Linked DNA regions of Homo sapiens: region 1 is linked to region 2. The links come from fine-mapping of genetic effects on gene expression. A gene starts in region 2. The other region holds a variant in brackets. All regions are shown on one strand. Distances are from middle to middle. Region 1 has its middle 19 kb from the start of SBDS. Region 2 holds the start of LINC02604 (long intergenic non-protein coding RNA 2604).

Region 1 (9,064 bases), 72 kb before region 2:
ATATGAAAATACCAATTTAATAAGCTTTTTGGAAAATTTAAAGTGAAACTGCACTTTTATTCTCATTCAGATTCACTTTCAAAGATCTCTTCTGCCCTGCCCTTTAGAAATTGTGAGAGGCTTCCCTGGGTCTTGGAAGTTGAGATCTTGAACTTTTTCCCTAGCATGACCAGTGCTGTTGCCAAAATGCCAGGGGTTTGGTGTAGGTCCTGCCGCTTGCTGCACAGAAAGCCAATCAGTAGTGCCAGGGAAGAAGGCTTTAATTGGGTGCTCCAGCCAAGGAGATGGGAGATCAGTTTCAAATTTGTCTCCCTGACCAACTAAAATTAGAGGTTTATATAGGAAGGAAGAAATGTAACTACATGCAGTAAAACAGGAATTAGGGAGGGGTAAGGAAGAGGAGTTGATCAACAGGCAGCAGGTGGTCTGTTAGGCCATTATGACAGATGAGGGGTTCTGCATCTCATTGTCCAAATGCAGTGATCTGGTAAGTTTCAGTTCCTTGATACCATCTGGGAGGCTTGATGGTTGATTTCCTGAGAAAGGAACTCAGATAAGGCAAATGTCACTTTCTCAAATTTCAAGACTGGAAAGGTCAATTTGTTTCTCTTTTTGCTTTTGCTTTTGTTTTGTTTTGAGACAGGGTCTCACTATGTTGCCCAGGCTGAAGTGCAGTGGCTATTCACAGGCGTGATGCCACTACTCATCAGCACAGGAGTTTTGACCTGCTCAGTCTCCGACCTGAACTGGTTAACCCCTCCTTAAGCAACCTGGTGGTCCCCCACTCCCAGGAAGTTGATGCTAAACTTAGTGCAGACACCTGATTGGCATAGCGCACTACAGCCCAGAACTCCTGGGCTCAAAGGATCCTCCCGCCTCAGCCTCCCAAGTAGCTGGGAATACCAGCACACTCCACCACACCAGGCTAGAAGTGTCAATTTCTATGTTTATTCAAAAGAAACCATAAACATCTGCTCTATGAAAGAACTGAGTCAGTTTCAGTACCTTAGCAGGTGACACAGACTCTGTTGTGAGAACGGAAAGCCCAGGAAAGAATTGTAGATTACTGGTTTCAAGCTGTCTTATACCTACCTCAGGCACTAGGAGGCATGGAGAGTTTGCAAGGAAGTGATGAGGAGATTTAAAAAGAAAAGGCAGAAGAGATGGAGAGTGGATGGAAAGCTCCCAATAAAGAGAGGCTGGCCAGGCGCGTTGGCTCATGCCTATAATCCCAGCATTTTGGAAGGCTGAGGCAGGCGGATCACCCAAGGTCAGGAGTTCGAGGCCAGCCTGGCCAAAATGGTGAAATCCCTTCTCTACTAAAAATACAAAAAATTAGCTGGGAGTGGTGGTAGGTACCTGTAATCCCAACTACTAGGGAGACTGAGGCAGGAGAATCACATGAACCCAGGAGGCACAGGTTGCAGTGAGCCGAGATCGCACCACTGCACTCCAGCCTGAGTGACAGAGTGAGACGAGAGAGAGAGAGAATAGGAATGTTTTGAGCAGAGCAGTTACTTCTTGCTGCAGTTCCTTTTCCCCAGAACAGTCAAAATGTGCTGGCCCTTACTTTTCTTCACGTCCCTCTCCTCCTAGGCTGGGATCCAGGAGCCCCAGGACTTGGTGCCACTAAAATAACTGCCGCATTTTTTTTTCCTTGAGTTTCATGGCATGGATCACAGATTTCAGCTTTGAATCTTTGAATGTTTTGAATGTTTCAGCTTTCAAATGTTTTGCTTTTCTCCAAATAGCCTAAGCTATAGTGAACCATAGAAGGGCAATGAGCAAGCCATCATACCCAAACATTTCTAAATCAATCCATTTTCCATCATGACTCAGTACATGTATACATCTGTAACAGAGTGCAGTGGTGCAATCATAGCTCTCTGCAGCCTAGAACTCTTAGGTTCAATCAATCCTCCTGCCTCAGCCTCCAGAGTTGCTGGAACTACAGGCTTGTGCCACCACGCCTAGCTAATTATTTTAACTTTTTGTAGGGACAGGGTCTTCCTATGTTGCCCAAACTTAATCTACTATTTTGTTTGTTTGTTTGAGACAGAGTCTCGCTCTGTTGCCCAGGCTGGAGTGCAGTGGGGCAATCTCTCCTCACTGCAATCTCCGCCTCCTGGGTTCAAGTGATTCTCCTGCCTCAGCTTCCCAAGTAGCTGGGATTACAGGCGCCCCCTACCATGCCCAGCTAAATTTTTTTTTTTTATTAGAGACGGGGTTTCATCACAGTGGCCACGCTGGTCTCGAACCCTTGAACCCAGGTGATCCACCTGCCTCAGCCTCCCAAAGTGCTAGGATTACAGGCGTGAGCCACTGTGCATGGCCTTAATCTACTATTTTTTGTGGCAATAATTAGATGCTTAATTCTCTAAGTAAAAATTAAATCCAATTCCAAGGTTTGCAAAGCATACTAAGTATACCCAAACATCTTCAGAGAAACTATGCTGAGCAATTTCTTTACCGTATTTTGCCCAAACACAGTAATGAATACAGCTGAATATTCCCTGCATGTTTTGCTAATTTCATACTTTCCGTCAGTACACAGAACATGGCAACTGTGTGTCTCAAGTGTTTTTCAGACATCGTCTGACTTACCGTAACTGTCTGCATAGTAGACCTGGTATTATGCATCTTACACAGATGGAGAATTTGAAGTTAAATACGGGCCCAGGTGCACAATTACATTTCAGGGCCCAGAATTTAGGTATAAATGTTGGACTTAAAGAGTGCTGTTTTATTTTTAGAACACTAATTCAGTAAATAAAGCAGCAGACATGGGCTTATGATTCATTCACCTTATTTGTGAAAAGAAAAGCCTAATAACCTCAGCTTCTTTGTCAAGTGGTTTAGCAAGTCACATCAAGAGAAAAGGAAAGCGCTGGGTGCGGTGGCTCATGCCTATAATCCCAGCACTTGGGAGGCTGAGGCAGGCATATCACTTGAGGTGAGGAGTTCGAGACCAGCCTTGCCAACATGGTGAAATGCCATCTCTACTAAAAATACAAAAATTAGCCGGGCGTGGTGGTGGGCACCTGTAATCCCAGCTACTTGGGAGGCTGAGGCAGGAGAATCGCTTGAACCTGAGAGGTGGAGGTTGGCGTGAGCCAAGATTTTATCACTGCACTCCAACCTCGGTAACAAAGCAAGACTCGGTCTCAATTAAAAAAAAAAAAAAAGGAAAGGAAGCTGGGAAAAAATGCAATGAGACTAAAAGTTACTAAAAAATAGCCCAAACCTTTAACAAAAGAAGCTTTGAGGCCAGGCGGTGGCTCAGGCCTGTAATCCCAGCAAGTTGGGAGGCCAAGGCAGGCGGATCACTTGAGGTCAGGAGTTCGAGACCAGCCTGACCAACATGGAGAAACCCTGTCTCTACCAAAAATACAAAATTAGCTGGGCATGGTGGCGCATGCCTGTAATTCCAGCTACTCGGGAGGCTGAGGCAGGAGAATTGCTTGAACCCGTGAGACGGAGGTTGCGGTGAGCTGAGATCACGCCATTGCACTCCAGCCTGGGCCACAAGAGTGAAACTGTCTCAGAAAAAAAAAAAAAAAAAGAAGCTTTGAAAAGTGGGGAGGGAGAGAAATATTTCATTACTATTTATCGCAGAGAAACTCTCCACCAGGCTGCCACATGTGGTTGCACAGGCTGAGCACTGCACAATTTCCACGGCTGCCATACAACAGCTACTCCTGAAGTGCAATGGTCCAGCTATCAAGATAGCTCTTTATGGCAATAACAGGCATTTTCTGTATTGAAATCATTTTTAAAAATAAAGATGGGGTCTCACAATGTTTCCCAGGTTAGTCTCAACCCCCTGGGCTCGAGCGATCCTCCTGACTCAGCCTCCAGAAGTGCTGGGATTACAGGCATGAGCCACCATACCCACCCGATTGAAACACTTAATTTTTTAAAATTGTTAAAGTACTTTGCATTAGAAAGAAAGAAGAGCTAAAATAAATCTTATTTATAAAGGCAAACATAGGGCCAGGTGCAGTGGCTCACGCCTGTAATTCCAGCACTTTGGGAGGCCAAGGGTGGATGGATCACCTGAGGTCAGGAGTTCGAGACCAGCCTGGCTAACACAGTGATGAGGGAAGAGAGAGATCCTCTCATATTGTTTTATATTGTTTTATACTCAGTACCTGTTTTAAGAAAAAACAACAAGGAAGTAAAACCAAAGACAGGCAGCCCAGCGCCATGCCCGAAACCACGCCTGGGCCTGCCTGGTCTAAACCCAGTAGTTAAAACTCAACTCATAACTTAGAAACCAATGTTATTCATAGATTCCAGACATCATGTAATCCCAGCTACTCAGGAGGCTGAGGCAGAAGAATCGTTTGAACCCTGGAGGCGAAGGTTGCAGTGAGCCAGGATCAGGCCACTGCACTCCAGCATGGGTGACAGAGAGAGACTCCGTCCTGAAAATAAATAAATGCATAAATAATAAAGGCAAACAGAACTTTTTATTACAATTATTCCCCCCCCCCCCCCCCACCGCTTAATTCTGAAACAGCATGTTTTGGACAAAGACTCCAATCTTTTTTTTTTTTTTTTTGAGACGGTGTTTCGCTCTTGTTGCCCAGGCTGGAGTGCAATGGCGCCATCTCAGCTTACCGCAACCTCCGCCTCCCAGGTTCAAGCGATTCTCCTGCCTCGGCCTCCCAAGTAGCTGGGATTACAGGCATATACCACCACGCCCGGCAAATTTTGTATTTTTAATAGAGATGGGGTTTCTCCATGTTGGTCAGGCTGGTCTCGAACTCCTGACCTCAGGTGATCCCCCCGCCTCAGCCTCCCAATGTGCTGGGATTACAGGAGTGAGCCACTGCGCCCGGCTGACAAAGACTCCAATCTAAGTAATTAAATCGACGTGAAGAAATAGAGAAAAATTGGACTCTCTGCATTAGGAAGTTTATAAAATAAGCATGTATTGATCGCCTGCTAGTTGTGAGGCTTTGCATTAGGGGATGTATTCGTGACTTTGGCTTCTTCTAGTTAAGTAGTTCTCAAAGTGGGGATACACCATTAGGATCGCCTGCCTCAGCCTCCCAAAGTCCTGGGATTACAGGCGTGAGCCACCGCGCCTGTAGCTGCACTAGACCAATCTGGTTCAACTTTTTTTTTTTTTTTTTTTTGAGACAGAGTCTCGCTCTGTTGCCCAGGCTGGAGTGCAGTGGCTCAATCTCGGCTCACTGCAAGCTCCGCCTCCTGGGTTCACGCCATTCTCCTGCCTCAGCCTTCTGAGTAGCTGGGTCTACAAGTGTGTGCCACCAGGCCGGCTAATTTTTTGTATTTTTAGTAGAGA[T/C]GGGGTTTCACCGTGTTAGCCAGGATGGTCTCGATCTCCTGACCTCGTGATCCGCCCGTCTCGGCCTCCCAAAGTGCTGGGATTACAGGCATGAGCCACCGCGCCCGGCCTGCTTCAACTTTTATGTAACAAAGTCGTTAGTTTATCAGTTGCCTGGAACCCTCAGATTATGTAACCTGAGCACGTCCAGACGAACCAAGCCTGCACCCACAGGGGGATCCTAAGTGCTAGGATCGGGGCATGGGGACTAAATTAAGAAACAGACACAGCCCACCAGGATCCAGGATCCAATCAGATTGAGCCCTGGCATCACCCCATTGCAGCATCCAGTCAGATCACACCTCCTGGCATCACCTGACTACAAGATCCAATCATATCATGACTCATTAGCCTAGGCCTATAAAAGCCAACCCAGCCCCCACTCTCCAAGTGGCACTGTTTTGGGAGCTGTCTGTAATCCACCAAGCGACTGAACTCATCCACTGCGTAGGTAACAAGAACTTGTTACAAATGCAAAATCTTGGCCGGGCGCGCTGGCTCACGCCTGGATTCCCAGCACTTTGGGAGGCCGAGGCAGGCAGATAACCTGAGGTCAGGAATTCGAGACCAGCCTGGCCAAAATGGCGAAACCCCATCTCTACTATAAATACAAAAATTAGCCGGGTGTGGTGGCTCACGCCAGCAATCACAGCCACTCATGAGGCTGAGGCAGGAGAATTGGTTGAACCTGGGAGGCGGGGGTTGCAGTGAGCCGAGATCGCACCATTGCACTCCAGCCTGGGTGACAGAGCGGGACTCCGTCTCAAAAAAGAAAAATCTTAAACCTCATTCCAAACCTAATCAATCAGAGACGGGGCCCAGCAATTTTTAATCTCAATAAACTGTAAATCTATAAGTCAGTAAACTCTCCAAGTGACTCTGATGCACGCTAAAGTTTCAGAACCACTATTCTAGTTTGTAGATCAATATTTTAAGGTAAGAACAGGCATTTAGACAGTTCAGAGCTGGGGGCGTAGGGAGGAACACAACAGAAATGCCGAGAGATCAAACGTACGTAAGACTTCAGCCCAGCAAGATCTGCCGCAGATTTTCTCAAACCCTGGTGGTCCTTTTGGTGAGATGGGATGTTTCAGAGGGATATGGCTATAGATGGGATGGCCCTCTTGAGAGGCTGACAGAGACTTAAGTATCAGGCCAGGCGCGGTGGCTCACGCCTGTAATCCCAGCACTTTGGGAGGCCGAGGTGGGTGGATCACAAGGTCAGGAGATCAAGACCATCCTGGCTAACACGGTGAAACCACGTCTCTACCAAAAATACAAAAAATTAGCCGGGCGTGGTCGTGGGCACCTGTAGTCCCAGCTACTCGGGAGGCTGAGGCAGGAGCATGGCGTGAACCTGGGAGGCAGAGCTTGCAGTGAGCCGAGATTGCCCCACTGCCCTCCAGCCTGGGCGACAGAGCGAGATTCCCTCTCGGGAAGAAAAAAAAAGTATCAGATTTGTTTTAAAGTACTATGGAAGTGGGAATAGCCCAGCCAGAGGTGTTTGTTCCTTAATTTGTTTGTTGCTTTGTTTTTGAGACAGAGTTTCACTCTTGTTGCCCAGGCTAGAGTGCAATGGCGCGATCTCGGCTCACCACAACCTCCGCCTCCCGGGTTCAAATGATCCTCCTGCCTCAGCCTCCCGAGTAGCTGGGATTACAGGCATGCACCACAATGCCTGGCTAATTTTCTATTTTCAGTAGAGACGGGGTTTCTCCATTTTAGTCAGGCTGGTCTCAAACTCCTGACCTCAGGTGACCTGCCCCCTTCAGCCTCCCAAAGTGCTGGGATTACAGGTGGGAGCCACCTCGCTTGGCCTGTTTAGTGTTTTTTTTTTTTTTTTTTTTTTTTTGAGACGGAGTCTTGCCCTATTGCCCAGGCTGGAGTAGTCTTGCTCTGTCGCCCAGGCTGGAATGTAGTGATGGGACCTCTGCTCACTGCAACCTCTGCCTCCCAGGTTCAAGTGATTCTCCCGCCTTAGCCTCCTGAGTAGCTGGGATTACAGGCGCCCGCCACCACGCCCGGCTAATTTTTGTGTGTTTAGTAGAGACCGCGTTTCGCCATGTTGCACAGGCTGGTCTCGAACTCCTGGCCTCAAGTGATCTGCCCGCCTCAGCCTCCCAAAGTGCTGGGATTGCAGGTGTGAGCCACTGCGGCTGACCAGTCCAGAGTCTATTTGAAACAGAGTTGGAAAGACAGGAATTTAAACCTTACTAGTTGTGTAAAGTTGGTATGCAGCAGGCACATTTTAGGATATCTGCCCAGCCCACGATTCTTCCATTTCTTCTCTAGAATCTCTGTCTCTCAACACAAGGGGGAAGAAAGAGAGAGCGAGACAGACAGACTCTTATGCAACCACATAAAAGGAATAACCTTTGCTAAGAAGATAACGATTGTCTCTCTAAGGAGTTTAGAATATGGACAGAACAATAATCATGGATTTTTGCAGATGGCTGAACCTGTCTTCTGTGATTCCAGGAGTTGTGGGGCAGCCATGCTTCTCTACAAGGATACAGATACCAAGAGAAAGAACCCATTCTGCAGGTGGAGAAAAAGAGGACTCTGGGGTCTGTTACCTGAGTTTCCAGCTGTCTCCTGAGCCAGGTTCAGCACCTTCCTCTGTCTCGTAGCAAATCAGCCCCTGGATTCAGCGAGATATCCTGAGAGCCTACAAGTAACTTTGGCTGCCCACCTGTATTCTTTTTCTTATTTGTTATTAATTTATGTTGAGACGGAGTCTCGCTCTGTCGCCCAGGCTGGAGTGCAATGGCGTGATCTCAGCTCACTGCAACCTCCACCTACCGGGTTCAAGCAATTCTCCTGCCTCAGCTTCCTGAGTAGCTGGGACTACAGGTGCCCATCACCACGCCTGGCTAATTTTTGTATTTTTAGTAGAGACAGGATTTCACCATGTTGGCCTGGTTGATCTCAAACTCCTGACCTCAGGTGACCCGCCTGCCTTTGCCTTCCAAAGTGCTGGGATTATAGGCGTGAGCCACGCCCCGGGTCCCATATTCTTTTTCTTTGCAAAAGATTCAGCTGAAGTTCGTTTCTGTAACTCATACCAGAAAGCCTTTGCTAAGACAGGTGAGCAATTTATCTAATCTCACTCAACTTCAATGTATTTGTGGAAGGAGGCTGCTAATAGGTACCTCATTCACTGGTAAAGAGCTAAGTGAGATAATGTGCGTAAATACTTAGGGCAATGTCCAGCACACATTAAAATCACCCTTTCAAGTCATAGGAATGAGTTCTTTATCACCCTGGGCTGTGGTAATCACCTGTGCGTTCCAGGTCAAAAGGCCTGAGGTGGCTCCCTGGAATATGGCCTGGTCTCCACTCGAGTCTACTAATCTGAAGGCTGGGCAACCACAGATTACTTGCTCTGATTGAAAAGTTTGACAAGAAAATGATGACCAGGTGCCTTTCAGTGATTTCAATTTTTGAAGATGGCCAGGTCCACCGGCTCACCCACTGGGAGGCCAAGGCAGGAAGATCTGTTGAGCCCAGGAGTTCAAGACCAGCCTGGGTAATAGAGTGAGACCCTGTCTCTTAAAATAAGTAAATAAATAAATGAAGTAAAGAAAAAATCTGCAGGCCGGGCGCAGTGGCTCACGCCTGTAATCCCAGCACTTTGGGAGGCCGAGGCGGGCAGATCACGAGGTCAGGACATGGAGACCATCCTGGCTAACATGGTGAAACCCCATCTCT
Region 2 (9,064 bases):
CCCAGCGGACCCAGTGGTGCTTGAGGTGTCAGTGGCAGATAGGGATGGTGTTTGGAGCCTCTGGCAGACCCCCATAGGCCTCTAGGATTTTGGAGCAAGGCCCTGCCATCTTCTGCATATAACTACTCTCCTTTTGAGAGACAGCTCTTCACTTATTACTGGGCTTTGGTGGAAACTGAACATTTGACTATGGGTCATCAAGTCACCATGAGACCTGAACTACCTGTCATGAACTGGTGTTTTCTGACCCACCTAGCCATAAAGTGGGTCGTGCACAGCAGCATTCCATCATCAGATGGAGGTGGTATATATGTGATCGGGCTCCAGCTGGTCCTGAAGGCACAAGTAAGTTACATGAGGAAGTGGCTCAAATGCTCGTGGTCTCCACTCCTGCCACCCTATCTTCTCTTCCCCAGCCTGAAATGATGGCCTCATGGGGAGTTCCCTATGATCAGTTGACAGAGGAAGAGAAGACTAGGGGCTGGTTCACAGGTGGTTCTGCACGATATGCAGGCACCACCCAAAAATGGACAGCTGCAGCACTACAGCCCCTTTCTGGGACATCCCTTATGGACAGCAGTGAAGAAAAATCTTTCCAGTGGACAGAACTTCAAGCAGTGCACCTGGTTGTGCACTTTGCATGGAAGGAAATGGCCAGGTGTGCGATTATATACTGACTCATGGGCTGTAGCCAATGGTTTGGCTCTATGGCCAGGGACTTGGAAGAAGCATGATTGGAAAACTGGTGACAAAGAAATTTGGGGAAGTATGTGGATGGACCTCTCTGAGTGGTCAGAAACAGTCAAGATATTTGTATCTCATGTGAGTGCTCACCAAAGGGTGACCTCAGCGGAGGAGGATTTTAATAATCAAGTGGACAGGGTGCCTCATTCTGTAGACACCACTCAGCCTTTTCCCCAGTCACCACTGCCATCGCCCAATGGGCTCATAAACAAAGTGGCCATGGTGGCAGGGATAGACTTTCTCAGCAACATGGACTTTCACTCACCAAGGCAGACCTGGCTACAGCCACTGCTGAGTGCCCCATTTTCCAGCAGCAGTGCCCAACACTGAGCCCTTGATATGGCATCATTCCTTGGGTGATCACACAGCTACATGGTGGCAGATTGATTATATTGGACTTCTTCCATCATGGAAAGGGCAGAGGTTTCTCCTCCCTGGAATGGACACTCCAGATATGAGTTTGCCTATCCTACACGCAATGCTTCTGCTAAGACTACCATCTGTGGATTCACGGAATGCCTTATCCACCGTCATGGTATTCCACACAGCATTGCCTCTGACCAAGGCACTCACTTTACAGCTAGTGTGACAGTGGGCTCATGCTCTTGGAATTCACTGATCCCACCATGTTCCCCACCATCCCGAAGCAGCTGGATTGATAGAATGGTGGAATGGCCTTTTGAAGTCACAATTACAATGCCAACTAGGTGATAATACTCTGCGGGGCTGGGGCAAATTTCTCCAGAAGGCCATGTCTGCTCTGAATCAGCATCCAATATATGGCATTGTTTATCCCATAGCCAGGATTCACAGGTCCAGGAATCAAGGGGTGGAAGTGGAAGTGGCATCACTCACCATCACCCCTAGTGATCCACTAGAAAATTTTGGCTACCTGTTCCCACAACATTACATTCTGCTGGTCTAGAGGTCTTAGATCCAGAGGGAAGAAAGCTGCCACCAGGAGACACAACGATTCCATTAAACTGGAAGTTACGATTGCCACCTGGACACTTTGGGGTCCTGCCACTTTTAAATCAACAGGCTAAGAAGGGAGTTACAACCTTCTGGGATGATTGACCCAGACTATCAAGATGAAATCAGTCTACTACTCCACAATGGAGGTAAGGAAGAATATGCATGGAATACAGGAGATGCCCTGTGATTAAGGTCAATGGGAAACTATAACAGCCCAACCCAGGCAGGACTACAAATGGCCCAGACCCTTCAGGAATGAAGGCTTGGGTCACTCCAGGAAAAAACCTGCTGAGATGCTTTCTGAAGGCAAAAAGAATACAGAATGGGTAATAGAAAAAGGCAGTCATCAATACCAGCTATGACCATGTGACCAGCTACAGAAACGAGGACTGTAATTGTCATGAGTATTTCCTCCTTTTGTTAAAAACATGTTTGTGCATATATAAGCTTGTACTAAGAATATTTCATTTCCTTTTTCCTTTATTGTGTGAATAACTTATATTGACTTCATATAAGCATCTAAGTGTTAGTTTTATATAAGGGCATTTGGGTTCAGGATTGGTGCATTTCCAGTTGTATGAAGAATACTTTTATTATTATCTTAGGCACAATTATGACCTTATTATTATCTTTATTTGAAGATTATGTATAATTTCAGAAGATGTGTATGGGTTAAAGTTGACAAGGGGTGAACTTGTGATGGTTAATATTGACTGTCAACTCTATTGGACTGAAGGATGCAAAGTATTGTTCCTGGGTGTGTATGTGAGGGTGTTGCCAAAGGAGATTAACATTTGAGTCAGGGGGCTGGGAAAGGCAGACCCGCCCTTAAACTAGGTGGGCACAATCTAATCAGCTGCCAGTGTGGCAAAAATAAAAATGAGGCAGAGGAACATAAAGAGGTGAGACTGGCTTAGCCTCCGAGCCTACATCTTTCTCCCATGCTGGATGGTTCCTGCCCTAGAACATCGGACTCCAAGTTCTTCAGGTTTGGGACTCAGAATGGCTTCCTTGCTCCTCAGCTTGCAGACAGCCTATTGTGGAACCTTGTGATCCTGTGAGTTAATACCCCTTAAGAAACTCCCTTATATATATACATCTATCCTAACAGTTCTGCTCCTTTAGAGAACTGTGACTAATACGAAGGGTGACAATAGAGGAATTTATATGCTAGACTTTTATACTTTACCTCAATTTTCATTACCTTTTGAAGAAAAAATGTTTCACATAATAATCACATAACAATAATTTATTCAAATTTATTAAGGCAGGAGCTGGGCCTAAAGAGGGTGCTGAGAGGCAGGAGCTGGGCCTGGAGAGGTCAACTGAAGGAAATTTTTGGCCTAAGGAGGCTGCCAGGAAGCAGGAGCTGGGCAAAAACAGGTTGTTGTTAGGCAGGATTTGGGCTCATAGAGGCAGCCAGGAGGCAGGAACTGGATCTTTATAAAAGGGGCAACGTAAGGCAGGAGCAGGGCCTGCAGAGTCTACCAGGAAGCAGGACCAGGGCACAAGAGGCTGACATGAGGCAGAAAGTTGCCCTTGGGAGGCCACTGTGAGGCAGGACTCTTGAAAGGACGCAAAGCTGGGCCTGTAGTGGCTGCTAAAAGGCAGGAACGTGGTCTGGAAGGCCCTGGTGAGGAAAGAGTTGGGCCAAAAGAGGCCACTAGGAGGCAGGAGCTGGGCCTCAGGAGGCTGCCATAAAACAGGAGCTGGGACTCGGAAGGCAGACATGAAGCAAAAGCTGGCCTTTGGAAGGCTGATGAAAGGGAGAAGCCGGGCCTGGTGAGGTTGACTTGAGAAAGTTTGGGGCCTGGAGAGATCCATGGGAGGCAGGAGCCAAACTTGTAGACGCTACTGGAAGGCAGGAGGTGGGCCTGGTGAGGTAAACATGAGGAAGTTCTAGGCCTGGAGAGACAAGTCGGAGAAAGGAGCTGGGGGTAAAGAGGCTGTTGTAAGGCTTGAGATAGGCCTGCAGAGGCGGCCTGGAGGCAGGAGCTGGGCCTGGAGATGCCAAATTGAGGAAGTTTTAGGCCTGCAGAGGCCGTGAAGAGAAAGGAGCTAAGCCTGGAGAGACCGATGAAAGGCAGAAGCTGGGGCTAGAGAGGCCATTGGCAGGCAAAAGCTGGGGCTAGAGAGGCCATTGGCAGGCAAAAGCTCGGCCTCTGGAGGCCGCAAGGAGACAGGAGCCGGGCCTGGTGAGGTTGACTTAAGGATGTTTTGGTCCTGGAGAGGCCGGGCCTAAAGAGGCTGTTGAAAGGATGATGCCAGGCCTGTAGAGGCCAACAGAAGGCAGGAGCTGGGCCTGAGAAGCCCAAATTAAGAAAGTTTTAGGCCTGTAAGTTCCCTAAAGAGGCAGGAGCTAGGCATGCATGGAGAGGCTGCTGTGAGGCAGAAGCTGGGCCACTAGAGGTTGCCAAGAGGCAGGAGAATGGCTTGAAGATGTAGCAGTGAAAATGAGCTGAGTCTAAAGAGGTCATTGTTAGGCAGAAGCTGAGATCCTAGAGGACACTCAGAGGTACAAGTTGGGCCTGGAGAGGTCGACTGGAAAAAATTATTGACTTAAAAAGAGCACCAAGGCAGTAGCTGGGCCTGGAGTGGACACAGGAAGGCAGAAGGTGGGACCTGGGAGGCCGCCATTAAACAGGAGCTGAGTTTATGAGGCAAAAGCTGGGCCTTAAAAGGCTGACCAGATGCAGAAGCTAGGCCTGGTGACGATGACGTGAGAAAGTTCTGGGCCTGAAGGGACAATGCAAACGCAAGAGCTGGGCCTAAATAAGCCATTCGAAAAATGGAGTTCGGCCTCAAGAAACTGCAGAAAAGCAAAAGCTGGGCTTGGAGATGCTGCAACGAGGCAGGCACAAAAATGGTCTAGCAACTGGAAACAGCTCTGGGCCTGGAGAGGATGCCGGGAGGCGAGAGCCGGGTCTGGAGAGAGGCCGCCCACAGGCAGGAGCTGGGCCTGAGGCGGCCAAGCCGAGGCACGAGCTGGGCCCGGAGGGGCCACTGTGGGGCAGAGGCCGTGCCCCCAGGGGCCTACGCCAGGCAGGAGCTGGGCCTGGCGAGGCCGACTTCGGGCCGCCTCGGGTGGGCCCGCACAGGCCATCAGCGGGAGGCAGGAGCTGGGCCCAGAGGGGCCGACGTTGAGGAAGGGAGCCTTGGGCTGGGAGACGCCGTCGGGCTGGGCGGGAGCCGGGCCTGGAGAGGCCGCCGCGAGGCACGAGCTGGGCCTGGAGGGGCCCGCGTGAGGCAGGAGCCGGGCTCGTGGAGGCTGCCGGGAAGCCGGCACGAGCATGGCCGGGGAAGGCCGCCACGAGGCAGGAGGCAGGCCTGGAGAGCTGGACCGGAGGAGGCTTCGGGTCTACGGAGGCCGCTGGGAGCTGGGCAGGAGCCGAGTCACAGGAGGATGTTCAGAGGCAGGAGCTGGGCCCGCGGGCGCAGCCACGAGCAAGGAGCTGGGCCCGGAGAGGAGGCCGGGAGGCGGCCACTGGGCTGGCAGAGGCCGACTTGAGGAAGTCCTGGGCCTGGAGAGGCTGCCAGAAGGGCAAAGGTGGGCCTCAGGAGGCCGCGGCGAGGCACGAGCCGGGCCTAAAGAGGCCATTGGGACGCAGGAGTCAGGCCCGCGGAGGCCACCGAAAGGCAGGAGTGTGGCCTGGTGCAGGCCGTGGTGAGGCACGAGATGAGCCTAAAGATGCCATCGGGAGGCAGGAGCCGGGATTGTCGGGGCTGCCGCGAGGCAGGCGGAAACGTGGCCCAGGGAGGCCAACGTGAGGCAAGAGCTGGGCCTGGAGAGGCCGCTGTCAGGCAGGAGCTGGGCCTCTCCATGCCACCGGGGAGCCAAAGGCAGGGCCTGAAAGGCCTGACTTAGAGGATCCTGGGGTTTACAAAGGCTGCCAGGAGCTGGGCAGGAGCTGGGCCGAACGTGGCTTTTGCGAGGTAGGAGCTGGGCCGGCAGGCACAGCTGAGAGGGAGAGTTGGGCCTGGAGAGGCCGGCTGGAAACAGTACTGGGCCTGGAGAGGATGGTGAGAGGCAAGAGCTTGGCCCATGGAGGCTGCCAACAGGCAGGGCAGGAGCTTCGGCTGATGTGGCCACGCTGAGGCAACAGCTGGGACTGGGGGGTTCCACTTTTAGAAGGCAGAGGCCGTGCTTCTAGGGGCCTATGACAGGCAGGAGCTAGGCCCGGCGAGGCCGACTTCAGGATACTTTGGGTCTGCACAGGCCATCAGCGGAGGGCAGGAATTGGGCCCTGGATGGGCCAACTTGAGAAAGCCTTGGGCCGGTCGGGGTGGGCGGGAGCTGGGCCTTGAGAGACCACCGTCAGGCGTGAGCTGGGCCTAGAGACCCCAGTGTGAGGCAGGCGCCGGGCTTTTTGAGGCCGCCGAGAGGCTGGCAGGAATACAGCCGGGGAAGGCCGCCGTGAGGCAAGAGCTGGGCCTGGGAAGGCCGCTGCGAGGCCACAGGTGGGCCTGAAGAGCTGTGCTGGAGGAGGTTTCGGGCCTACAAAGGCCGCCAGGAGCTGGGCACGAACCGAGTCAAAAGCGGCTGTCTGCAGGCAGGGGCTGGGCCTGGAGGTACAGCCGCGAGAGTGTGCTGGGCCTGGAGAGTAGGCCGGGAGACAGCCACCAGGACAGGGGAGGCTTGCCAATTTGGGCCTGGAGAGGCCGCCACGAAGGAAAAGCTGGGCCTTTGAAAGAGGCCATTGTGAGGGACGAGCCGGGCCTAAAGAGGCCGTCAGGACGCAGGAGCCGGACCTGCGGAAGCCGCCGAAAGGCAGGAGCCTGGCCTGGGGGAGGCTGCAGTGAGGCATGAGATGAGCCTAAAGAGGCCATCAGGAGGCAGGAGCTGGGTCTTTCGGGGCTGCCGCGAGGCAGGGGGAAATGTGTCCCGGGGAGGCCGACGCGAGACAAGAGCTGGGCCCGGAGAGGCCGCTGTCAGGCAGGAGCTGGGCCTCTCCAGGCCGCCAGGGAGCTGAAGGCAGGGCCTGGAAGGCCTGACTTAGAGGAGCCTGGGGCCTACAAATGCTGCCATGAGCTGGGCAGGAGTTGGGCCGAACGTGCCTGTTGCGAGGCAGGAGCTGGGCCGGCAGCCACAGCCGGGAGGGAGAGCTGGGCCTGGAGAGGCCGGCTGGAAACAGTTCTGGACCTGGAGAGGATGGCGAGAGGCAAGAGCTGGGCCTGTGGAGGCTGCCAACAGGCAAGGCAGGAGCTTGGCCTGAGGTGGCCATGCTGAAGCAAGAGCTGGGTCTGGGGGGGTCCACTGTGAGGAGGCAGAGGCCATGCCTCTAGGCGCCTACGACAGGCAGGAGCTGGGCCTGGCGAGGCCGACTTCAGGACGCTTTGGGCCCACACGGGCCATCGGCGGGAGGCAGGAACTTGGCCTGGAAGGGCCATCTTGAGAACGCCTTGAGCCGCGAGACGCTGTTGGGGTGGGCGGGAGCTGGGCCTGGAGACGCCACTGTGACGCCTGAGCTGGGCCTAGAGAGGCCAGTGTGAGGCGGGAGCTGGGCTTGTTGAGGCTACCGCGAGGCCGGCTAGAAAATGGCCGGGGAAGGCCGCTGTGAGGCAAAAGCTGGGCCTGGGAAGGCCGCTGTGAGGGGAGACTGGGTATGGAGTGCTGGACTGGAAGAGATTTCAGGCCTACAAAGGCTGCCAGGAGCTGGGTAGGAGCCGAGTCAAAAGAGGCTCTTTGGAGGCAGGAGCTGGGCCTGTAGACACAGCTGCGAGAGAGGACTGGGACTGGAGAAGAGGCCGGGAGGCAGCAACTGCGGTGGGGGAGGCCGACTTGAGGAATTTCTCGGCCTGGAGAGGCCACCAAAAGGGAAAAGCTGGGCCTAAGGTGGCCGTTGTGAGAAATGAGCTGGGCCTAAAGAGGCCATCAGGATGATCAGGACGCAGAGCTCGGCCTCTGCTGCAGAGGCTGCTGAAACGCAGCAGCTTGGTTTGGCGAGGCCACGGTGAAGCATGAGATGAGCCTAAAGAGGTCACTGGAAGGCAGTAGCTGGACCTGTCAGGACATGACGCTCAGGTGGTTATGCGAGCGATGGGGAGGGGCTATAAATACAAACGAATTTTCCCCTCACTTTGCTGCTCACCACCAGCTCTGTGGCCCTGTGGTGGAGACCCCTGCTCAGGTGCATTTGAAAGGTTCCGTCCCATGCCATTCTTCAGAGTCATCTTTATTGCCACAGTGGTGAAGCATAGCATCCGTTAACTCGCATGGCATATGCCTTGGCTAGCATTTCATCACAATAAACAGTAAGTGGTAGCTTCACTCATTGTGAGGACACTTCCTGGAAATCACCAGCATCCCATGTCCCATTGGCAAGAAACTCAGCACTGCTCCTTGGATAACCAAACCAAGGCTGAAATCCCATGTATATGTGTCTATCTCCTGGTACTCTTCCTAGCATCAATTCTGTATTTCTAGGAGTCCAATCAAAACATATAAACCGCTCAAAAGTTTAAACTGGAATGCGCACGGTGGCTCAAACCTGTAATCCCAGCGCTTTGGGAGGCCAAGGCGGGTGGATTACTTTGAGCTCAGGAGTTGAGACCAGCCTGGGAAACACGGCAAAACCCTGTCTCTACAAAAAGCACAAAAAAAGCACAAAAATTAGCCAGGCATGCTGGCACATACCTGTAATCCCAGTTACTTGGGAGGCTGAGGATGGAGAATTGCTTGAGCCTTCGAAGTGGAGGTTGCTGTGAGCAGAGATCATGCCTCTGCACTCCAGCCTTGGTGACAGACTGAGACCCAATACCAAAAAAAAAAAAAGTAACTTTAATATAAAAAATATTAATTATAACAGAGGATCAGCATAATGAGTGACACACTAGCACTAACTACAGACAATTCTAGAGAATACAAAACTAGCAGAGGCCAGGCATGGTGGCTCATGCCTGTAATCCCAGCAATTTGGGAAGCCTAGGTAGAAGGACTGCTTGAGGCCAAAAGTTGGAGACCAGGCTGGGCAACTTAGTGAGACACTGTGTCTACCAAAAAAAAAAAAAAATTAGCCAGGTATGGTGGTGGTGCACAACTGTAGTTCCAGCTACTTGGGAGTCTGGGGTCGGAAGATCCCTTGAACCTGGGAAGTCTAGGCTGTAGTGAACCAAGATCATGCCAGTACACTCTCGCCTGAGCAGCAGAGTGAGACCCTGTCTTAGGGAAGGGGAGGGGAAGGGAGGAGAGGGGAGGGGAGAGGAGGGGAGAGGAATGCTAATCCCCCTATAAGAATCTCCTCTTCTCCTGCCCTCTCTGGAACCTCACTTGTCAGTTCTTCCTCCCACTTCCCTGTATGTTTAACCTGTCCCCTGCTTTTAGCTCCTTCCCACCAGCATTTAAATT

Evidence for each region. PIP is the estimated chance that this variant, and not a neighbour inherited with it, causes the effect.
Region 1: its variant is fine-mapped to the expression of LINC02604 in whole blood (INTERVAL, PIP 0.94).

Annotation. Positions count from the first base shown.
Region 1 is chr7:66,971,982-66,981,045 of GRCh38, reverse strand. It overlaps the pseudogene RN7SL43P. Among named protein-coding and RNA genes, the nearest start is that of SBDS, 19 kb to the left of the region's middle. The variant T/C (reference allele first, on the strand shown) is at 5,315.
Region 2 is chr7:66,900,187-66,909,250 of GRCh38, reverse strand. It overlaps LINC02604 (long intergenic non-protein coding RNA 2604), which reads right to left and starts at 5,131. Exons shown (of 1, transcript NR_136637.1): 1 at 2,954-5,131.